6 linked regions of the Homo sapiens genome follow. The protein of the gene in region 4 purifies or fractionates together with the protein of the main gene of each other region. This does not show direct contact. Each region holds a gene or a part of one and is shown on either strand. Other genes may lie near its edges.

Region 1 (3,500 bases), on a different chromosome or scaffold from region 4:
TCCTGTTCATTCCTTTCTTCCTCCTTGTGAAGACCAGTTTCTGGATTCCCTCTTTCCTGGGAGAGCCTTGGTCATTGTTACTTATTGAGTAGCTTCTCCAAGCATTCATTGTTTTTACATACCTTGTAATAGGACTTGATTGTAGTTGTTTTATCTCAGAATCTCATTTCCTTAAGGGAATGTGTGATATTTGACAGGATGCATAACTGTTGTTCATGCAGGTGTTTTAAGAAAAAACTTGGGCCGATAGAAGAGATAATAGTGTTTGTTTGCATTTTCTTTAAAGGTAGGCTTAATTGAGGGCAGTTGGACCTGCATCCTTTTCCAGTAGGTTGGAGAATCACCTACATTAGTAGAGCCTCATATATTAGTAACCCTGGTATCTGCCTGGGCATCTTTAGCGGGTGGGGGGTAGAGGATGGGTTTGGTCCCTTTACCCTATTCTGACCTGAAATGCTCTTCATCAAAGCTGAGTATGACAGTAAGCATAAAGACTGACTACATTACAAGCAGGGCTCTGAGCCAGAAGGTGGGGCCTTTGTATCCTGTTTGGAGTAGACTTCCGTGGTAACTGCGTCTAACGCTTTCTCACAGCCGCTCCTGACATCACTGGCCATAAACGGAGTGAGAACAAGAATGAAGGGCAGGATGCCACTATGTATTGCAAGTCAGTTGGCTACCCCCACCCAGACTGGATATGGCGCAAGAAGGAGAACGGGATGCCCATGGTGAGTAGGAGGCAGGCCCGGGTCTCTGGTTGCTGGAGTTTTCCCTGCAGAGGTCCAGACACGTGGGTCAGTTACTGTAGTAGCTGTATCCTCGGATGTGTGCATGGCGAGGGTCACCCTTTCTAGAGTCACGGTTTACAGCATGAATCAAGAGGTCATTGACAGTCTCTTCCAGCACAAAAATCCCTGTACGTGATTTGTTAAAGCTGTCCCTCTGGTAAGAGATTAGATTGCTCACTGTATTAGTCCATTCTCACTTTGCTCTAAAGAACTTCCAGAGACTGGGTAATTTATAAAGAAAAAAGGTTTAATTGGCTCATGATTCCACAGGCTTTACAGGAAGCATTGCCGGGGAGGCCTCAGGAAACACAGGAAAGATGATCTTTCCTATCTTAGACAACAGAGTGACATCTGGCCTGCTTTGAGTTTTATTGCTTTCAGATTACTGTAACTGAAGGTGAGGCATTGACAGGTAATATAGTTAAGATAAAGCTAAATCCAAAGAATTAGCCTCCCCCTCAGGCTTCTTTGATCCTTGAAACTTACCTATTTTTTAGACTGCAGTTGCTGTTTATTTCTTCTTAAGTGATCCCTGTAAGTAGAGAAACTTAGAATCATGGTGGAAGGTGAAGGGGAAGCAGGCAGGTCCTAGGTGGCTGGAGAGGAGGAAGAGAGTGAAGGAGGGAGATGCTACACACTTTTAAACAACCGGGTCTCATGAGAATTCACTGTCAGGAGAACAGCAAAGGGGATATCCGCCCCCATGATCCTGTCACCTCCCACAAGGCCCCTCCTCCAACACTGGGGATTATAATTCACCATGAAATTGGGGTGAAGACAAAATCCAAACCATATCACTTGCCTTCAGGATAGGACACTGAAAGAACCGAGCCTAATTCTCGTCCATTTATCCTGAAGAAAATACTGTTTTTGAAGTGGTCTTAGAGAACCTGCCTTGTTTTTTTAGTAGGAAACAAGGTACTGAGGGCAATTATTAGTACATTCCTGCAACACAGAACATACTGATAAGGAATTGGGGCAACCTGAGGAGGCCCAAGGTACTGAGGGCAATTACTAGTACATTCCTGCAACACAGAACATACTGATAAGGAATCGGGGCAACCTGAGGAGGCCCAAGGGCAGCCTTGGCAGCCTTAGACATTGGGAACCTGACGGTATTTGCCCCAGAAAATGTCAAAGAGAACATCTTTTCCGATCAGTGGGATGATTCATGATGTTGTTTGGAGAGTCAGAGCTTTAGAACCTCACTTTCTCTCTCATTATGATTGTTGACCCATTACCTTTTCTGTCAGAGAGCGTGTCAAGCGTTCCTCTGATCCCATGGATCCTCTTTGATTATCAGTCTTCAGAATCCAAAAGGACCTTAAAGATCATTAATCCATCTTCTTTGGAAGGGTTCCATAGTAGCCAAGATAAATTAGTGGCAAAACCAAGAGTTGTATCTAGTTTTTTTAAATTTCAAGTCCATTATTCTTCCTACTTCATGACATCTTGATAATAAAATGTTGAGTTGTGATAATGACTCCAACATCAGCGATGATTTCAGAGACCCGTTAACGAGGAGCAGGATGAGGATTGCCGAGGTGAAGATGCTGAGTCTTTTTTACAAGACACTGAACTTTCTAAGGCACTGGAGAGGAAATGTCCACTTCTCTCTGCTGGTCACTGGGAAGGAGTGCCCTTGAGCTTTTGCCAAAGCAGGTTGGAATTAACGCAGTATGTGTTTTAATCTGAAAGATGAAGCTTGAGGCATCACAGACTAGCTGTTTTAAAAGCTTACGAGTTCCCCATTTCAGATGTACCTGCACTCAAATGCTGACAAGATTGTATGCCATATCTAGAATCATTTCCAGGATAATATTCCCCTTTTTCTCTCCTATTTCTGATTGTGCTTTAGTTGTTGCAGGGTAAAGACACATGAGTCTGTTTTTTCCCTGCCGGGATCTCATGAGCTGAGTGCAGTGAGCCATCCCGCTGAGTCCCGACCTCTGCCTGTGCACTCTTGCACCTCTGCCTTCACACCCATGCGAATCCCTGCCTGCACTGCTCCTCCCTGTTTGATCAGCTGTCCTCCTCCACAGTCTAGTGCAAATGTTAGCTCATGTGTGAAGCTTTCCCTGACTCTTTCCAGCAGTGGCCACTCACTGTGCCCTACAGCACTCTATACACACGCTCTGTTGGGGCTTCTTAACACATTCCTGAAATCAGTCATCCCTTTTTGGATGTCTGGTTCCCTTTTGAGGCCAAGCTCCTTATTCATTTCTAGGTCTGTCTTCTCCCTATCTCACCTTCTCACTCCCACCTGCCCTTAGTAGGATATAAAGCATGCAGCATATTTTAGTAAATATTTGTTCTCTTTTATTTGTTTGTTTTGTTTTGTGTTAAGACAGGGTCTTGATCTGTCTACCAGGCTGGAGTGCAGCAACCTCCTGGGCTCATGTGATCCTCCTGCCTCAGCCTTCTGTGTAGCTGGGACCACAGGTGTACACCACTATGCTCAGCTAATTTTATTTTTGATTTTTTGTAGAGATGGGGTCTCAGTTTGTTGCCAAGGCCAGTCTTGAACTCCTGGGCTCAAGCGATCCTCCCACCTTAGCTTCCTAAAGTGCTGAGATTACAGGCATGAGCCTCTGTGCCCAGCCACAAATATTTGTTGATTGATTGAATAACCTTTCCTCTAACCTCTAGTCCTTAAATGAAAGGAAAGTTATGAATTTCCCCCAGTCTGACTAGGAGTGAGTTCTTAGCATT
Region 2 (3,500 bases), on a different chromosome or scaffold from region 4:
TCTCAAGAGAAAAAAAAAAAAAAAAAGCCTCCAGGGTGCTGCCCTTTCCTGGGGCATTTCCCCTCCCCCAACTTCTTCCTTTGGCTAATGCTACAAGGGTCAGACGACATGCCCTTCCACAAAGAGGCTCTCCTGACCCCGCAGACCAGTTCCCCCACTATACACTTTCATGGCATCTGGGGCTCCTTCTTCCCAGGCATTTGCTGTAATTTTTCCTTATATGGTTACATTGATATTTTTGTGCTCAAACTGTGCAGGAAGTAGCAGTTTCCTTCTGGGAGAGGAGCTCAGACTAGATCAGAAAGGGCTGAAACCTGTAGTTTTGTTAACTGACATTTCCTCAGATTCTAACACATTGCCTGGCACACAGCAGGCACTCAAATATCTGACAAAGAAATAAATGTTGGGGGTTTGTGATATCTTCCCCCATTCCTGCAATGGTTCTGAAAGGGAAGAAGGGTCATTCCTCTGGCAACAAACCATGACGTTGTTTTGTGGCACGTCCTTTAACATCTGGGTTTTTTTTACTTTTTAATGTTTTAATTTTTATTTGTTTAGAGACAGAGTCTTGCTGTGTCACCTAGGCTGGAGTGCAGTGGTGTGATCATAGCTCACTGTAGCCTTTAACTCTTAGGCTCAAGCGATCCTCCTGCCTTGGCCTCCTGACAGCTGTGACTACAAGTGTGCCCCACTGCACCTGGCTTGTTTTCATGTTTATATGTGAGGTTACTCTCATAGAGGTGATAGTGCCCCTTCTCCAACACCAACCTGTGACAGAATATGTCACCCTGTGAAGCTGAATCCACAGGATGGTGAATAAACAGATGGGCTCAGTGCTCTGCCAGGGCAACCCTCCCTCCAAGAGGGCTTGGGGGTGCAGGGCTGACAATTCTGCTGGGTTTTCAATAACTGGGGGCTTTCTGAATCCCCTCGGGAGACTGCAGCCTCTCGTTGCAACTCAGGTCCGGCAGGCACATCCTCAAGGCGGGGTGGCCTCAGCAGCAGCTGTGACCTCCTGTCGGAGGTGATGTGTGAGAAGGGGTGGGCTGCCCGAGCCTGTTTCTTTGTTTCTTTCTTTTTTCTTTTTTTTTTTTTGTGAGACAGAGTCTCGCTCTGTCACCCAGGCTGGAGTACAGTGGCGCGATCTCAGCTCACTGCAACCTCCACTTCCTGGGCTCAAGAGATTCTCCTGCCTCAGCCTCCCGAGTAGCTGGGATTACAGACACGTGCCACCACACCCGGCTAATTTTTGTATTTTTAGTAGAGATGGGGTTTCACCATGTTGGCCAGGCTGGTCTGGAACTAAGTCTGTTTCTATGTGTGACAAACAATTAAACAGCATAGGCCGGGCGTGGTGGCTCACTCCTGTAATCCCAGCACTGTGGGAGGCTGAGGTGGGTGGATCACCTGAGGTCAGGAGTTCAAGACCAGTCTGGCCAACATGGAGAAACCCTGTCTCTACTAAAAATACAAAAATAAGCCGGGCATGGTGGCAGGTGCCTGTAGTCCCAGCTACTTGGGAGGCTGAGCTGGGAGAATCACTTAAATCCGGGAGGTGGAGGTTGCAGTGAGCAGAGACGGTGCCACTGCACTCCAGCCTGGGCGACAGAGCGAGACTCCATCTCAAAAAAACAAACAAACAAAAAACAATTAAATAGCACTTACCATGTCCTAGACCCTGAGGATGAGTTCATTTCATCTTCATATTAGGCCAGTGATATAAGTTCTAGTATTATCTCCATTTCACAGATAAGGAATCTGAGGCACAGAACTAAGTAACCTGTCCAAAGTCTCACAGCTAATAAGTAGCAGAGCCTGGATTTGAACTCAAATAGCTGAGTTACCAAATCCCTGTTCTTAGCCCTTATGCTTTGGTGCCTATAAAAATAAAAAGTTGGCTGGGCACAGTGGTTCACACCTGTAGCCCAGCACTTTGGGAGGCCAAAGTGAGAGGATCACTAGTGAGACCCCATCTCTACAAAATTAAAAATTTTTTATTTTTTAATTTAATTTAATTTTGTTATTATTATTTTTTTATTTTTGAGAGGGAGTCTCTGTTGCTCAGGCTGGAGTGCAGTGGCGCAATCTTGGCTCACTGCAACCTCTGCCTCCCAGGCTCAAGCAATTCTCCCGTCTCAGCCTCCCAAGTAGCTGGGATTACAGGCACCCGGCACCACACTTGGTTAACCATGTTGGCCAGGTTGGTCTCAAACTCCTGACCTCAGGTGATCTACCTGCCTCGCCTCTCAAAGTGCTGGGATTACAGGCGTGAGCCACTGCACCCGGCTACAAAATTAAAATTTTAAAAATTAGCTGGGGATGGTGGCACATGCCTGAGGTCCCAGCTACTCAGTGAAGTTGAGGTGGGAGGATTGCTTGAGCCCAGAAGGTCGAAGCTGCAGTGAGCTATGATTGCACCACTGCACTCTAGGCCTGGGCAACAGAGTAAGACTCTGTCTCAAAAAATAAAAATAAAAATACATTTAAATTTTTAAAAAGTGTTGAAATTCTGCCAGCACTAACCAGCACTCTGCCTCCTCAAAATGCGTTGCTGAAACATTCCTAGAGAAAACAAAGGTTACCTAGCAAGGTCCCACAGCTCGACAGACATATCCGTAATGCACCAGTATAGTTTGGCAGAAAGAGCACAGGATTCAGAATCACAAAGCCCTGGGCTTTTAAACTTACTATTTGAGTGATCTTGGACAAGTTACTTTACCTCTCTGAGCCTCAGTTTATTCATCTATAAAAGGGATCATAATAGTATTTCCTTTCCAGGAGTAATGTGAAAAACAAAAGGATGAACACTGATAACGCGCCTGGCACACATCACACAGAGTGGCTCCTTCCAGCCCTCAAAGACCTCGCTCAGCTGTGCCACTCACAGCACAGTCCTCAGGTCTGTAATTTGGTTTCTGGAGTGGACCTGCCCTCATGATGACTCCCCTAAGCCAATTACCAATGCCATTTATCTTCCTAGTATAAATGAATAAAATGGCATCTGCTTTATAAACCCGTCTCTGGTGATTTAGTTAGGATGAGTCATCACTCTCAGAGCCTAATCACCTCTGGAGGAGCAGACACAATCGAGTTTCTGGACCTGCAAAGCAGAGGATAGGCCTGCCTCCTAGGAGGAAAGACACAAAAAGGAAACCATTTTTAGGAATCCATGTAGCATTATTATTAAAGTCCCCACGTCCCCAGGTTCCCTTCCCCAGCCACCAAGCCTTCCCCAGCCTTGTGGCTTCTCTCTCTGCAATCCCACTAAAAGCCAAAATGCTCAGAGCTGAAACCAGATCCAGGGAGAAGATTCATACCTTTGCAGGAAGCAGCAGTTTCCTGCTGGGAGAGGAGCAAGGGGTGAACAGGGAACCATGTGGGGGCGTGGGCGGCTTGGGGTGCTGGGGAGGGAAGGAGCAGGTTGGGGGGTTACCTTGATCGGGATGTTACCTTGATCAGGTTGAAGAGCAGAGGCAGAGCCCGCAGAGGCAGCAGCTTGG
Region 3 (2,437 bases), on a different chromosome or scaffold from region 4:
GGGGGTTGATTCATTAATACCTGTGGAAAAGAAAATCTTTAAAATGGTAACAGAAGGAATAGGGTGGAGATAGAAGAAAAGAAACAAGAAAAAGTTGGCTGCTATAAAGAGACATCTGAAATAATTCTACAGTAAGAGAATGACTAAACAGTGCTAAAATACAATAGTGGGATTACATTCACCACGGAATCACCAGTTACAGCCAGCGTCGCCTGAAATACATTTTCCAGCAAGGAAGCTGCATTTTCAGGACCTTCTCTGTTATTCACACCATGACTTTCTTTTCCACAACCAGTTAGGACTTTTGCCACAGACAACCTGGTGGGAGGCTCGGGTCAGTGTCTGTCAGTGCCTGAGGCCAGCTGAGTTAGAGGAGGGTGACTAAGAAGAAAAGAAGACAACTGGGAAGGATTCCAGGCCCAGGGCCATTCTTGCTCTTCGCTTGTGCACATTACAGGCTGTTCCGAATATTAAACATGACATTAAAAAAGATGCCTCACTCACCTGAAATGCAGAAATATTTATTTTGGTTTCCTTCATTGTTTTTGGAAATTTTGTTTTGGTTTATAAAACATAGAAATAGCCAACACTTAAAGCAAACATTCAAAACCCCAAGGTGACAAATTATTGACTTTTTGTGCAATTAAGAATACATATATGAAGTTAGGCTACCAAGTAGTGTTATTACAATGACAATTCTTTAGTGCAAGCCCTGTTGTGCTTGTATATAATACATGTACTCTCACAGACCCCAAAACAGCTGCTTTAAATGTACAAATGACAGCTCAATTCAGTCAAATGTGGCAAAGACTCACAATAAAGTGAACTGCTGTTAATTTCCCAAATTAACTTTAAAAAATCCCTGGAGAAGTGAATCCCAGGAAATGAACTTTCCAGATTTCTACATCCTAGAATTTTGGCTTGTCAAACACATTTCATAGAAATCAGGTAGCATTATAAGAACATTTGCTTATTACTGTCCATTTCAATAAGTACTCAAGTATATACTCCCTTAATAGCTTTAAAGAAATGCTTGCCTGAGAGTTTATTTTTTGGGGAAAAAGGCAAGTTAATCCCAACATGATCTTTTGATATGAAAACCACATTAAAAATCTGTTGGCCTTTACACAGAGTGAGTGGTTCAGTGAAGATAAAGTAGACAGTTATTCAGGCGTCACAGCTGAGCATGGCTGATCCAGGTAACTCTTTCTTGAAATGCTTGTCTTCACTATAGAATCTAAGGCAGATTTTTAAATAACCCCTGAAAAAGGATGGAGTCGGGGAATCAGGCCTGGAGAACCGAGTCCAAGAGCATTCTGCCATGAAAGAGAATCCACGCGTTCTGATGAGCACCCATTTGCCAGAGGCTCCTTATCTGCATGGTTCTGAGTTGGATCTGCCCTCCCGCTTACTGGAAACCTTATGCTCCAACAGAAACCACAGGGGACTGGAGAAGAACATGAGTTTCGTAACCCTTACGAATCAGAAGGGTTCTGTGAATGCCTGTGAGAAGGGACAGTAGCAGGGATTTAAAAAGATCTCTGGTCCGCTTGTGAGATTCTCCAGCCAGGACAGTTGTTCTTATTTTTAAAGGGAACACTTCCCTCTAGTGCACTGTACTCTTTAGAGCAGCAGACAGCTGCAGAATTTGCAGCAAGTAGCAGACATCTCAGAGATAGCAAAGTCCTAACCCCTTGATTAGAGAAACAGGGAGACAGAAGATTTAAAACCCACTTTTTAAACTGAGGAAGTCTCAAATAACTTAGCACATTTATAGTATCCCCTTTACAATTTTTAAGGCTCATTTTGGAAAGTGTGTATTACCATAAACATGGTCTGCAACATGAGGTGACTGTAAGGCAGTGTTCTCTTTCCTCTAGCATTCCTATGAGAAGAACCCCGAATGGACAAGTCAAACACGAACGCTTCCTTCCCTACACTTGCTGTATTCAAAATTAACAACATGAAGGCCATCAGCAGGAGAAGAGATTGTGGAACTGTGCCATTTCCTCTGAGCTTTCTTCTTCACACTAAACCTTGATAGTGGAATAGAGGTCATCTATCTGCGACCTGAAATAGTTCCGCAGCTCTGGCCTTTTCGCCTTCATTGTTGGAGTCAGAAGGCCATTGTCGATAGAAAATAATTCAGGGTGCAATGTGATGCCTTTGACCTGCCAATAAACAAGGCAGTTAAAAGAGGAAAAAGGACACGGGCCACCAGTCTCAAAAGCACGTAAGCCTTGGAGGGGATCAACACTCTCCAGCCATCCAATCCATCCTCTCATTTCAGCCAAGCTGCACCTTCTCAACAAAGGACAGGCATCCTATTCTTAGGATAGGATTCGGGATCATATTCTGATATCCAGGAAAAGAGAATAAATGCTTTTGATTTAAAAACCTTTCCCCTGTCAAACTACTCCATTATTTATTCCTCATG
Region 4 (3,965 bases):
AAGTGAGAGAGAGAAAAAAAGATGGGCTGATTTTACTATTATCTAAATTATAGTTGATTCAAATGTTATTCTAGTAATACTCTAATTCTCATTTACTGATTTCCATTTTAATAAGTCTTAGAAAAAAAGGGATGGAGTTAAATTTCATCCAGCAATTGCATCTGATGAAAAACACACACACTGGCTTGTGTCAAACAAATGATTCTGCTCTGGGTCACAGGAGGAAAAAAAGTGGAGACCTGCACCCTCAGGGATACAGTGGGGCTGTATCATTACAAGTATCCACTTGTTCATCCACTGATTCATTTATTTATTTAACAAGTTTTTGAATCCGTATTCCATGCCTTACTATTAAGCTGCAGGGGTATTCATGAATTGGAAAGATTTAACAAACAGAAACATAAAAACTAGAAAATTATAACTATGTGGCAACCACTTAAATTTATGGTGGTAGAACATAAATCAAACGGATAGTCTCCTAGAGGTAAAACCAGAAATGAAAGCTTCCTTGGAGAAGAAAATCTTGGCCACATTTTGTGGGAAGAGAGGGAAATGATCTGGTACATGTGAGGTAGGACAGTCTTCCAGGCAAAGGAGCTGCCTTCACGGCCAGCAACCCAGTGGTACAGCTCTATCAGAGGCACAGGTAAGAAGAGAAGCATACGAAGAAGTGGTTTTGAGAGGAGTTCATTTATTCTTCTTTCAACAAATAATGATTAAAGGCTTACCATGCACAGAAACAATTCTCATTTCTGAGAAGCTGTTGGTCTCAAGACAGTGTTCCTTCTTTCATGGTATTTACTAACAGGGAAGCCGTTTATAAACAAGTAAACAATAAATAAATAATTTCAGCTACTGATAATTTTCATGGATTGAATAAAACAGGGTTACGTGATGGAGAATGAGTGTGGTGGTTCTTTCGGCAGGGACATCAGGAAAGACTTCTTTGAAGAGGTAACATAAGAGCTAAAATCAAAATTTTAAGAGAATCAGCCATATAAAATTTCTGTTCTTGGTGGAGGAGTGAGAGGAGCAGAGAGAATAGAAAGGACAGAAACCTTGAAGAGGGAATGGAAGTTGGCAAGAAGTTAGAAGATTTGAAGAACCATCTTATTTAGAAGGCTGAAAACAGATTTGACACAAAAGATGCTGGAGATCCTCTGTAGGTTTTTGAATAAGGGAATGAAGTAGGACTTGGGAGAGATGAGCCTTGTTGCTCTCAGTACAAATTTGGTGTCCAGTATTTCTGGTGCTGACCCATCAGACACAGAGCTCTAGGCTTTGCTCAATCAGTCCAAAGTAGCAAAGTAGAGTTTCTGCCACTCAGAGATCTTGGGGATTTTATTTTCCTCATTGCCTTCCACGCCTAGTGGTCAATGTCTTGCTGCCCTTAAGAAGGGTGTCAGTGTGTGACTTCTTTTGACTCTTACTTCATTTTATCTCTGCTCCCCAAGGTCCTTGTCCTACTGGTGGAACCGAATCCAGTCCCTCCTCTACTGTGGGGAAAGCACCTTTCCTGGCACTTTCCTGGAACAGAGCCACAGCTGCACCTGCCCCTATGACCAATCTTCCTGCCAGGGCCCCATCCCATGTGCCTTGGGCGAAGGGCCCGCGTGTGCCCACTGTGCTCCAGACAATAGCACACGCTGTGGGAGCTGCAACCCGGGCTATGTGCTGGCCCAGGGGCTGTGCCGGCCAGAGGTGGCCGAGTCCCTGGAAAACTTTCTTGGGCTGGAGACAGACTTGCAGGACCTGGAGCTAAAGTACCTGCTGCAGAAGCAGGATAGCCGCATTGAGGTACACTCCATCTTCATCAGCAATGACATGCGGCTGGGCAGCTGGTTTGACCCTTCCTGGAGGAAGCGCATGCTGCTCACCCTGAAGAGCAACAAGTACAAGCCTGGGCTGGTGCACGTGATGTTGGCCTTGTCCTTGCAGATCTGTCTCACCAAGAACAGCACCCTGGAGCCTGTCATGGCCATCTACGTCAACCCCTTTGGGGGCAGCCACTCTGAGAGCTGGTTCATGCCTGTGAATGAGGGCAGCTTTCCTGACTGGGAAAGGACTAACGTGGATGCAGCTGCCCAGTGCCAAAACTGGACTATCACCTTGGGGAATAGGTGGAAGACTTTCTTTGAGACAGTTCATGTTTACCTACGGAGCCGAATCAAGTCCCTGGATGACAGCTCCAATGAGACAATCTACTATGAGCCCCTGGAGATGACTGATCCCTCTAAGAATTTGGGTTACATGAAAATTAACACCTTGCAGGTCTTTGGCTACAGCCTGCCCTTTGACCCAGATGCTATCCGGGACTTAATTCTCCAGTTGGACTACCCATATACTCAAGGTTCCCAGGACTCTGCACTCTTGCAGCTCATTGAGCTCAGGGACCGGGTGAACCAGCTTTCTCCACCTGGCAAAGTCCGACTTGACCTTTTCTCCTGCTTGCTCCGGCATCGGCTTAAGCTGGCCAACAATGAGGTGGGCAGGATCCAGTCCTCCCTGAGGGCTTTCAATTCTAAGCTGCCAAACCCTGTGGAATATGAGACCGGCAAACTCTGTAGCTAATGGGCGGCCCACTTCAGCACTGGGCAAGGAGGGGATCCATGAATCTGGGGTACAAAGATAATCTAAGCCCTCACCTTAGTGCCAACAGGGTGTGCTCCCACGAGACTTTCAGCATCCAGTAGATGGGACCTCGAGGCTCGAGCTGAAGCAGGCGAGAGAGAAACAGCTACTGCGTGCGTGCGCGCACGCATACACACACACACACACACACTGGCACAGGGAGGCTACAACTAAGCAGCCTCAGATCTGTAAAGTTGATTGGTGCTTTCTAAAATGAATGCAATTGAAAGAAAGGAGCCAAGGAAGAGATTAAGAAAAAGAACCAGCTGAACCATGAAACAAACAAAAATCCTAAAAGTGATTCTTGTCATTCAAGAAAGCAAGAGGGGACAACAATGGGAGGGGTCGGAGCTCTTCCTTCCCCTCTGTGGAGTCACTTTTGTATTCTTTTTAACCAGATTTCTTAAAATGTTGTTGTTTTGTGAATCCTGACATTGGTTCTTACTTTTGTATGCTGCCTCCTCTGTGCCCTCCCAGACGCTGACTGGGAAACACAAGAAGTACAACCAACAGGAACCAGCGCCAAGGGCAGGCAGCGGCCTCCTTGCTCCCCTCCCTTACTCCTCCCTCTGCTGCCTCCTCCCCCCACCAAGTTTCAGGGCCCTGGATTGTTCCCAGTTCCCATTGTGGTCCCTTCAGAGCTCCTTTCCAACAGCATCTCTCTGTCGAAGAAAGAAGCTCTGTCAAGTTAGAGAGAGACAATGTGTAGGAAATGTTCTTTTTTAAAAAAAAATAACAAAAACAAAACAAAACTATTTATTTTGTGATTGTTTTCCTTGTTAATCTGCTCCAACCACCTGAACATCTAAGTAAACATTTATCTGGTTTAATATATTTTTGGAAAAGGCCTTTTTTAGGGGGAAAAATGAGAGAAAAAAGAAAAAAAAAAAGAGAGTATAGTCCCCTGGGTTACCTGGATTTTTCTTTTTAATTGCTATTTGCATGACACAAGAGTGTCCATGAAGCGGGGATAGTACTGTGTGGGAAGCTGGTTGATTGACAGATACACAAGTTACACAAGTGAATGAGTGCCTGTGTTGACTGGGCTGTGAGGGGTGTATGAGAGAGAGAGGTTAAATGAGAAGCGAGGTAGTACTATCCCAGAGTTATCTCACTACACTCCCATCACCTTTTTTTTCTCCCTGGGTGTGAGGGCTAACATGGGTCCTAAAACCAGGATTTCCCACATGGGGAGAATAGTTAAAAAGGTCTTGCTCGTAAGAGGAACTGCAGTCTTTGCACTGGGCAAAGTCCTGCTAAAGGGGCTCCTCTTTGTCGACACTGCTGCAGACATTAGGAGAATTTCCCATATGCTGCATCTTATGATCTGGGAT
Region 5 (3,500 bases), on a different chromosome or scaffold from region 4:
TGCATACCTACTATCAAAATTGTAATTGTAAATTATAATATATAATATAGAATTGTACAGAGAAAAAGTAAAACTATACTGCCCTCCTCTAACACCACTCTCTTTTCCTCTAGGGATAATTACTCTTGATGTGTATCAATCAGATTGTTTTGTATTACCCATACACATGATAAGGGTTTATTTTTAGATAAGTGGAATTATGGTATACAACTGTTCTTTGACTCCCTCCCCCTCTCTTCCCCTGCTTAACAGCATACTTTGGAACTCCTATGTCAGTGTATATATATGTCTAACCAAGAGGCTTTTCTTCTTTTTTTATTTAATAACTCAATGGTATTCCACAGTATAACTTACCATTATTTAAATCATTCCCTACTGATGGATATTTAGGATACTGCCAAATTTTCACAGTTACAAACAGTTTCACTGCAGCGAAACCTTATACATAGTTTTATACACATGTAATATTTCCCTAGAATTGTTTTCTAATAAAACTATTGGGTCAAAATGTATGCACATTTAAAAATGAGATGATTTTGGTATTCTTCAGCAAAGAGTTATACATGTGAACTCTCATTAACAGTGTATGCAAATGCCTATTTGTTAAAAGTGGATATTAAGTTCTTGCCAATCTGTCTGGTGAAAAACGGTTTACATTTCCCTAATAACCAGAGTCAATTTGAACATCTTTTCTTTTTTATTCACCAGTACTTCTTTTCCTGGGAAATGCCCATGTATAATCTTCTGCCACTTTTTGCTTTTTGTAGTGGGTACCTTTCTCTTATTGATCTTTAGGAGCTCTTTATATATTATGGATATTATGCAGTAGAAACCCTTTTATCTAATGTGATTTAGAACAATTGGTTATGTAATTTAAAAGGTTAATTTCAGGTAAACGATCATAAAAATATGTATGGCAAACATTTCACCTTCCTTTCATCAGTGGTATATATATACTCATTCAACAAACTTTGTGTGTGTGTGGTTTTGGTTTATTTATTTTTGGGGGGCTTTTTTGTTTTTTTGTTTGTTTCTGAGACAGGGTTTTGCTCTGATGCCCAGGCTGGAATGCAGTGGAGTGACCTTGGATCGCTGCAACCTCTGCCTCCCGGGCACAAGCTATCCTCCTGCCACAGCCTCCCAAGTATCTGGGACTACAGTTGTGCATCACCATGCCTGGCTAATTTTTGTTTTTGTTTTTTTGAGACAAGGTCTCACTCTGTCACCCAGGGTGGAATGCAATGACGTGAGTGATCATAGTTCACTACAACCTCCACCTACTGGGCTCAAGCAATCCTCCCACCTCAGCTTCCCCAGTAGTTGGAACCATAGGCACATGGCACCATGCCCAACTAAATTTTTGTATTTTTTGGGCTAGGCGTGGTGGCTCACGCCTGTAGTCTCAGCACTTTGGGAAGCTGAGGCAGGCAGATCACTTGAGGTCAGGAGTTTGAGACCAGCCTGGCCAACATGGCGAAACCTCATCTCTACTAAAAATACAAAAATTAGCCGGGTGTGGTGGTGGGCACCTGTAATCCCAGCTACTCGGGTGGCTGAGGCAGAAGAATCGCTTGAATCTGTGAGACGGAGGTTGTAGTGAGCCGAGATCATGCCACTGCACTCCAGCCTGGGCGACAGAGCGAGATTCCGTCTCAATAATAATAATAATAAAAATTTTCTGTAGAGATGGGGTTTCACCATGTTGCCCAGGCTGGTCTCAAACTCCTGGCCTCAAGAGATCTGCCTGCCTTGGCCTTCCAAAGTGCTGGGATTACAGGCATGACGCACTGTACCTGACCTGGGGTTTTTTTTGTTTTTGTTTTGTTTTGTTTTTTTATTTAAAGACAGGATCTCACTCTGTCTCCCAGGTTGGAATGCAGTGGTGTGATCATGACTCACTGCAACCTTGAACTCCTGGCCTCAAGCAATCCTCCTGTCTCAGCCTCCTGAGTGACTGGGGACTACAGGTGTGTGCCACCACACCCAGCTATTTTTTTTTTTTTTTTTTGAGACAGGGTCTTGCTATGTTGCTCAGGCTGGTCTTGAACTGGCTTCAAGCAATCCTCCTGCTTTGGCCCCCTAAAATGTTGGGATTACAAGCATGAGCCACCATGCCAGCCTCAAACTTTCTATATGGGGCCAAGAGGCCAAGACCTTTTTCTCTAACTCCAGGCCCATTGATTTTACATTTGACAAGTAATGTGAGTATAAAACCCTTTTAGATGGCTGGTGCGGTGGCTCACACCTATAACCCCAGCACTCTGGGAGGCCAAGGCGGGCGGATCACGAGGTCAGGAGATCGAGACCATCCTGGCTAACACGGTGAAACCCTGTCTCTACTAAAAATACAAAAAAATTAGCCAGGTGTGGTGGAGGGCGCCTGTAGTCAGGAGAATGGCGTGAACCCGGGAGGTGGAGCTTACAGTGAGCCGAGATCACGCCACTGCACTCCAGCCTGGGCAAAAGAGCGAGACTCCATCTCAAAAAATAAAATAAAATAAAATAAAATAAAACTCTTTTAGATTTTTATATTTTTTCCACGTATCTTGTATAGTCATCTTACCCACATTTAAGCGGACAGTATTTTTTTTTGCAACTTGTTTTCATTAACTCTTCTCAAAACAATTTGTTTCATCATAATGAATCTAATGTAACCATCACCCAGCTTCAACAGTTATTCATATGTGCTGAATTGTGTTTCTTCCATACTACCCACAACCCACCTCCATCCCTCACCCCTTGTATAATGTTAAGCAAATCCCAGACATCATATTATTTCATTTGTAAATTTTCAGTAAAAAGAACTCCAATCTCCCCCACTCATATATTGTCAGGTTACAACATATTAAACAAATTACCTTTTAAAAACAAATACAAGCAGGCTTAGCACGGTGGCTCACGCCTGTAATCCCAGCATTCTGGGAGGCTGAGGCAAGTGGATCACCTGAGGTCAGGAGTTCAAGACCAGCCTGGCCAACATGGCAAAACCCCGTCTCTACTAAAAATACAAAAAAAATTAGCCAGGCATGGTGGTGGGCACCTATAATCCCAGCTACTCGGGAGGCTAAGGCAGGAGAATTGCTTGAACCCAGGAGGCAGAGGTTGCAGTGAGCCGAGATTGCACCATTGCACTCCAGCCTGGGCAACAAGAGCAAAACTCCATCTCAAAAACAAACAAACCAACCAACAAACAAAAAAACAAATACAACCAACATATACAGGTTTAGTAGTAAAAAAATTTACTGTACTGGTAGGTAAACAAGCACGCTGGAGTACTGGAGATCAACCAACTAATACCAAGTATTCAGTGTACACTGTATTTTACAAAGGAAATAAAAATTATTCAATGTGGTGAGTCAATTAAGTGGAGGTCAATTAAAGCTTCTAATGCATATGTAGAAGCTTTTTCATTTTTATTTATTTTATTTATTTATTTTTTGAGACAGGGTCTCGCTCTATCACCCAGGCCAGAGTGCAGTGGTGCAATCATAGCTCTCTGC
Region 6 (3,500 bases), on a different chromosome or scaffold from region 4:
ATCTCAGCACTTTGGGAGGCCAAGGTGGGTGAATCACCTGAGGTCAGGAGTTTGAGACCAGCCTGGCCAACAAGACAAAACCTCATCTCTACTATACAAAAAGAGGGCCTGACGCGGTGGCTCACGCCTGTAATCCTAGAACTTTGGGAGGCCAAGGTGAGCAGATCACAAGGTCAGGAGATCGAGACCATCCTGGCTAACATGGTGAAACCCAGTCTCTAATAAAACAAAAAAATTAGCCGGGTGCGGTGGCGGGTGCCTGTAGTCCCAGCTACTAGGGAGGCTGAGGCAGGAGAATGGCATGAACCCAGGAAGTGGAGCTTGCAGTGAGCCGAGATTGTGCCACTGCACTCCAGCCTGGGCGACAGAGCGAGACTCCGTCTCAAAAACAAACAAACGAACAAAAAACAAAAAATTAGCAGGGTGTGGTGGTGAGCACCTGTAATCCCAGCTACTTCGGAGGCTGAGGCAGGAGAATTGCTTGAACCCGGGAGGGGGAGGTTGCATTGAGCTGAGATCGCACCACTGCACTCCAGCCGGGGCAACAGAGTGAGATTCTGGCAAAAAAAAAAAAAAAAAAAAAAAAAAAAAAAAGTCAAAGGACACACTTTATTGAAATGTTGAAGTATACAGGGAAAGAGCCCTGAAATCAATTCAGAACAATTTTGTATGAAGATTCAGAAGTCTTTTAGAAGATAGTTCTGAGTGGCTGTAAGCATTGACACTTACCGTAAAACCAACAGTAAGCTGAAGATGAGCCTAAAGCCAGAAACGCCTAAACTGAATCCACCTGCGAAACACTGGTGTCCCTTCCCGCAGTTATGACCTCCCCTCGAGAGCTCAGTAGGGAGAGTCAGAGCTCCTCTCTCACAGAGTAAAGCTGTCCCTGGCCTTGGCAAATGCAGCGTCTCACACAAAATCAATCAAGAAGGACGTCACTCCTGAAACAAACTCCTGCTAAACTCGAATTCACAATAATAATCCCCTCATCCAATAGCTGAACCATCATTTCCACATCCTGAAAGCTTTCCTGAAAAGCAACATGGGAAGAAAAAGTCCTTATGACAGTTCCTCACTCGCCTTCCAAGGCCAGGTGCCTTTCTAGAAAGATGAGCTCTGCTGAGCAGGGCGTCCATCTTAACAACGCTGATTTCCAGCGAGAGGCCTCAAGGATCCAAAAGCAAAGCATTCCTGAAGCTGAGTTCAACCCTTCTGCCCCCTGGGGCTGTGAGTCTGAAGCTGAGCCTCCAACTCCTGGGCTCAAGCTCCTCCAACTCCTGAGCTATGACTACAGGTGCACACCACCACGCCTGGCCAATTATTTTCTTCTTTTCTTTCTGTATAGATAGGGTCTTTTTAAATTTAAATTTAAATTTTTTTTTTTTTGAGATGGAGTTTTGCTCTTGTTGCTCAGGCTGGAGTGCAATGGCATGATCTCCACTCACAGCAACCTCCACCTCCCAGGTTCAAGCAATTCTCCTGCCTCAGCCTCCCGAGTAGCTGGGATTACAGGCGTGTGCCATCACGCCCGGCTAATTTTCTATTTTTAGTAAAGACGGGGTTTCACCATGTTGGCCAGGGTGCAGGTGATCCGCCTGCCTCAGCCTCCCAAAGTGCTGGGATTACAGGTGTGAGCCACCACGCCCAGCCTTTTAATTTGCAGTGAGACAGGGTCTCGCTATGTGGTATAGGCCTCAAGTGATCCTTCCACCTGGGCCTCCCAAAGCGTTTCGATTACAAGTGTGAGCCACTGCACCCGGCCCATCTCCCCATTTTCCAGACTGGTTTCACCTTGCTAAAAGGAAAACAGAAATGTAAAGACATCCAGAGGCAGCTACTGACTGAAGAACATCAGATGAATATACCTTCGTCCTCTTCAGGCGCCTTCCCCTTCGACTTATCCTTCTCCTTATTCTTCTGCTTCAACCTTGAGGTGTTAAAATAGAAAGTACCACCTATGAGAAATAGAGAAAGGATTTAACAATTAAGTTTTGCAACCACAGGGGAGGCATACAGGACAACAGTGTACTCCTAAATAACCAAAGCAAAACAAAAACCATCTGAAAAACCTACTTATATCCATAAGATTTATAAATATGAAATAAAGCATATCCTATATCACTTAGTCCAGTATTTCCTAATTACAAAATAATAAACTATTTTAACTTACGTTAAATATCTTTGCTACTTAAATTGCTAATGTGAGGGAATAAAAAATAGTTATGAACACAAATTTGGGAAAATATCACGAATCCCTTTAATATATGAAGTTGCTTTAAAAGAACTTAAACACGCCAGGCGTGGTGGCTCATGCCTGTAATCCCAGCACTTTGGGAGACCGAGGCAGGTGGTTCACGAGGTCAGGAGTTCAAGACCAGACTGGCTGAGATGGTGAAACACTGTCTCCACTAAAAATACAAAAATTAGCCGGACGTGTTGGCAGGCGCTTGTAATCCCAGCTACTTGGGAGGCTGAGGCAGAATTGCTTGAACCCGGGAGGCGGAGGTTGCAGTGAGCTGAGATCACACCACTGCACTCCAGCCTGGTTTACAGAGCAAGACTCCGACTCACAAATGGTTTCCAGACAAGTGGCAACAGCAGCAGCCCAGCCACCACCAAGAGGGGCCGGCACGACACTCCTCACACAGAGCTGTCTCAAAATCTGAACAAATCAGCGTTTACAAATGGGGGAGGCCAGGTGCAGTGGCGCACGCCTGTAATCCCAGCACTTTGGGAGGCCGAGTCGGGTGGATCACGAGGTCAGGAGATCGAGACCATCCTGGCTAACATGGTGAAACCCCGTCTCTACTAAAAATACAAAAAATTAGCCGGGCATAGTGGCGGGCACCTGTAATCCCAGCTACTTGGGAGGCTGAGGCAGGAGAATGGCGGGAATCCTGGAGGCAGAGCTTGCAGTGAGCGGAGATCGCGCCACTGCACTCCAGCCTGGGAGACAGAGCAAGACTCCGTCTCAAAAAAATAATAATAAACAACAACAACAACAACAACACAAAAATGTAGCTGTACGTGGTGACACATGCCTGACTTCCCAGCTACTCAGGACGCTGAGTGGGAGGAGAACCTGGGCCCAGGAGGTTGAAGCTGCAGTGAGTAGAGATTGCACCTGGGCAACAGGGCAAGACCCTATCTCAAATAATAATAAAAAATAATAAAAATAGGGAAAGAGTTTCACAACCATGACCTGAAATGTAACTTTCTTCACAAAGACATGAACGGGTTCACCAGTGAAACGGCCCCGGTTGCCACTTGCATGTCACCTCAGGCTTAAGGAGGCTGAAGCATGTGCTTCCTGTTTCACAGCCACAGGCACCCGTGAGCTGACGTTAAACACTGACAGCAGATGAGCCAGTTGCTGATGCACGGCCAGTGGGCACGGCACTCTCCCTACCCATGTGTTGGCACAAAGCTGTTTAATGTTAGTTAGGAGTAGAAATATTTTACTTTTTCCCTGTTCCAACTCCATAAAGGGGAGCGTGAAA

Evidence for each region.
Region 1: the proteins of BRINP2 (region 4) and NPTN purify together in Homo sapiens (affinity purification with mass spectrometry; one large-scale study listed by BioGRID and IntAct). This does not show direct contact.
Region 2: the proteins of BRINP2 (region 4) and NLRX1 purify together in Homo sapiens (affinity purification with mass spectrometry; one large-scale study listed by BioGRID and IntAct). This does not show direct contact.
Region 3: the proteins of BRINP2 (region 4) and ACSL1 purify together in Homo sapiens (affinity purification with mass spectrometry; one large-scale study listed by BioGRID and IntAct). This does not show direct contact.
Region 5: the proteins of BRINP2 (region 4) and ACSL4 purify together in Homo sapiens (affinity purification with mass spectrometry; one large-scale study listed by BioGRID and IntAct). This does not show direct contact.
Region 6: the proteins of BRINP2 (region 4) and SPG7 purify together in Homo sapiens (affinity purification with mass spectrometry; one large-scale study listed by BioGRID and IntAct). This does not show direct contact.

What each region holds. Positions count from the first base shown.
Region 1 is NC_000015.10:73,570,890-73,574,389, reverse strand, and holds part of NPTN (neuroplastin isoform b precursor), read left to right. Parts: intron 1-594; coding exon 595-728; intron 729-3,500. UniProt on the Homo sapiens protein: Probable homophilic and heterophilic cell adhesion molecule involved in long term potentiation at hippocampal excitatory synapses through activation of p38MAPK. May also regulate neurite outgrowth by activating the FGFR1 signaling pathway.
Region 2 is NC_000011.10:119,175,225-119,178,724, reverse strand, and holds part of NLRX1 (NLR family member X1 isoform 1 precursor), read right to left. Parts: coding exon 3,451-3,500; intron 1-3,450.
Region 3 is NC_000004.12:184,755,095-184,757,531, forward strand, and holds the end of ACSL1 (long-chain-fatty-acid--CoA ligase 1), read right to left. Parts: intron 2,172-2,437; coding exon 2,031-2,171; 3' UTR 501-2,030; downstream 1-500. UniProt on the Homo sapiens protein: Catalyzes the conversion of long-chain fatty acids to their active form acyl-CoAs for both synthesis of cellular lipids, and degradation via beta-oxidation. Preferentially uses palmitoleate, oleate and linoleate.
Region 4 is NC_000001.11:177,278,958-177,282,922, forward strand, and holds the end of BRINP2 (BMP/retinoic acid-inducible neural-specific protein 2 precursor), read left to right. Parts: intron 1-1,454; coding exon 1,455-2,571; 3' UTR 2,572-3,465; downstream 3,466-3,965. UniProt on the Homo sapiens protein: Inhibits neuronal cell proliferation by negative regulation of the cell cycle transition.
Region 5 is NC_000023.11:109,723,258-109,726,757, forward strand, and holds part of ACSL4 (long-chain-fatty-acid--CoA ligase 4), read right to left. Parts: intron 1-3,500. UniProt on the Homo sapiens protein: Catalyzes the conversion of long-chain fatty acids to their active form acyl-CoA for both synthesis of cellular lipids, and degradation via beta-oxidation. Preferentially activates arachidonate and eicosapentaenoate as substrates.
Region 6 is NC_000016.10:89,511,403-89,514,902, reverse strand, and holds part of SPG7 (mitochondrial inner membrane m-AAA protease component paraplegin isoform 1 precursor), read right to left. Parts: intron 1,956-3,500; coding exon 1,866-1,955; intron 1-1,865. UniProt on the Homo sapiens protein: Catalytic component of the m-AAA protease, a protease that plays a key role in proteostasis of inner mitochondrial membrane proteins, and which is essential for axonal and neuron development.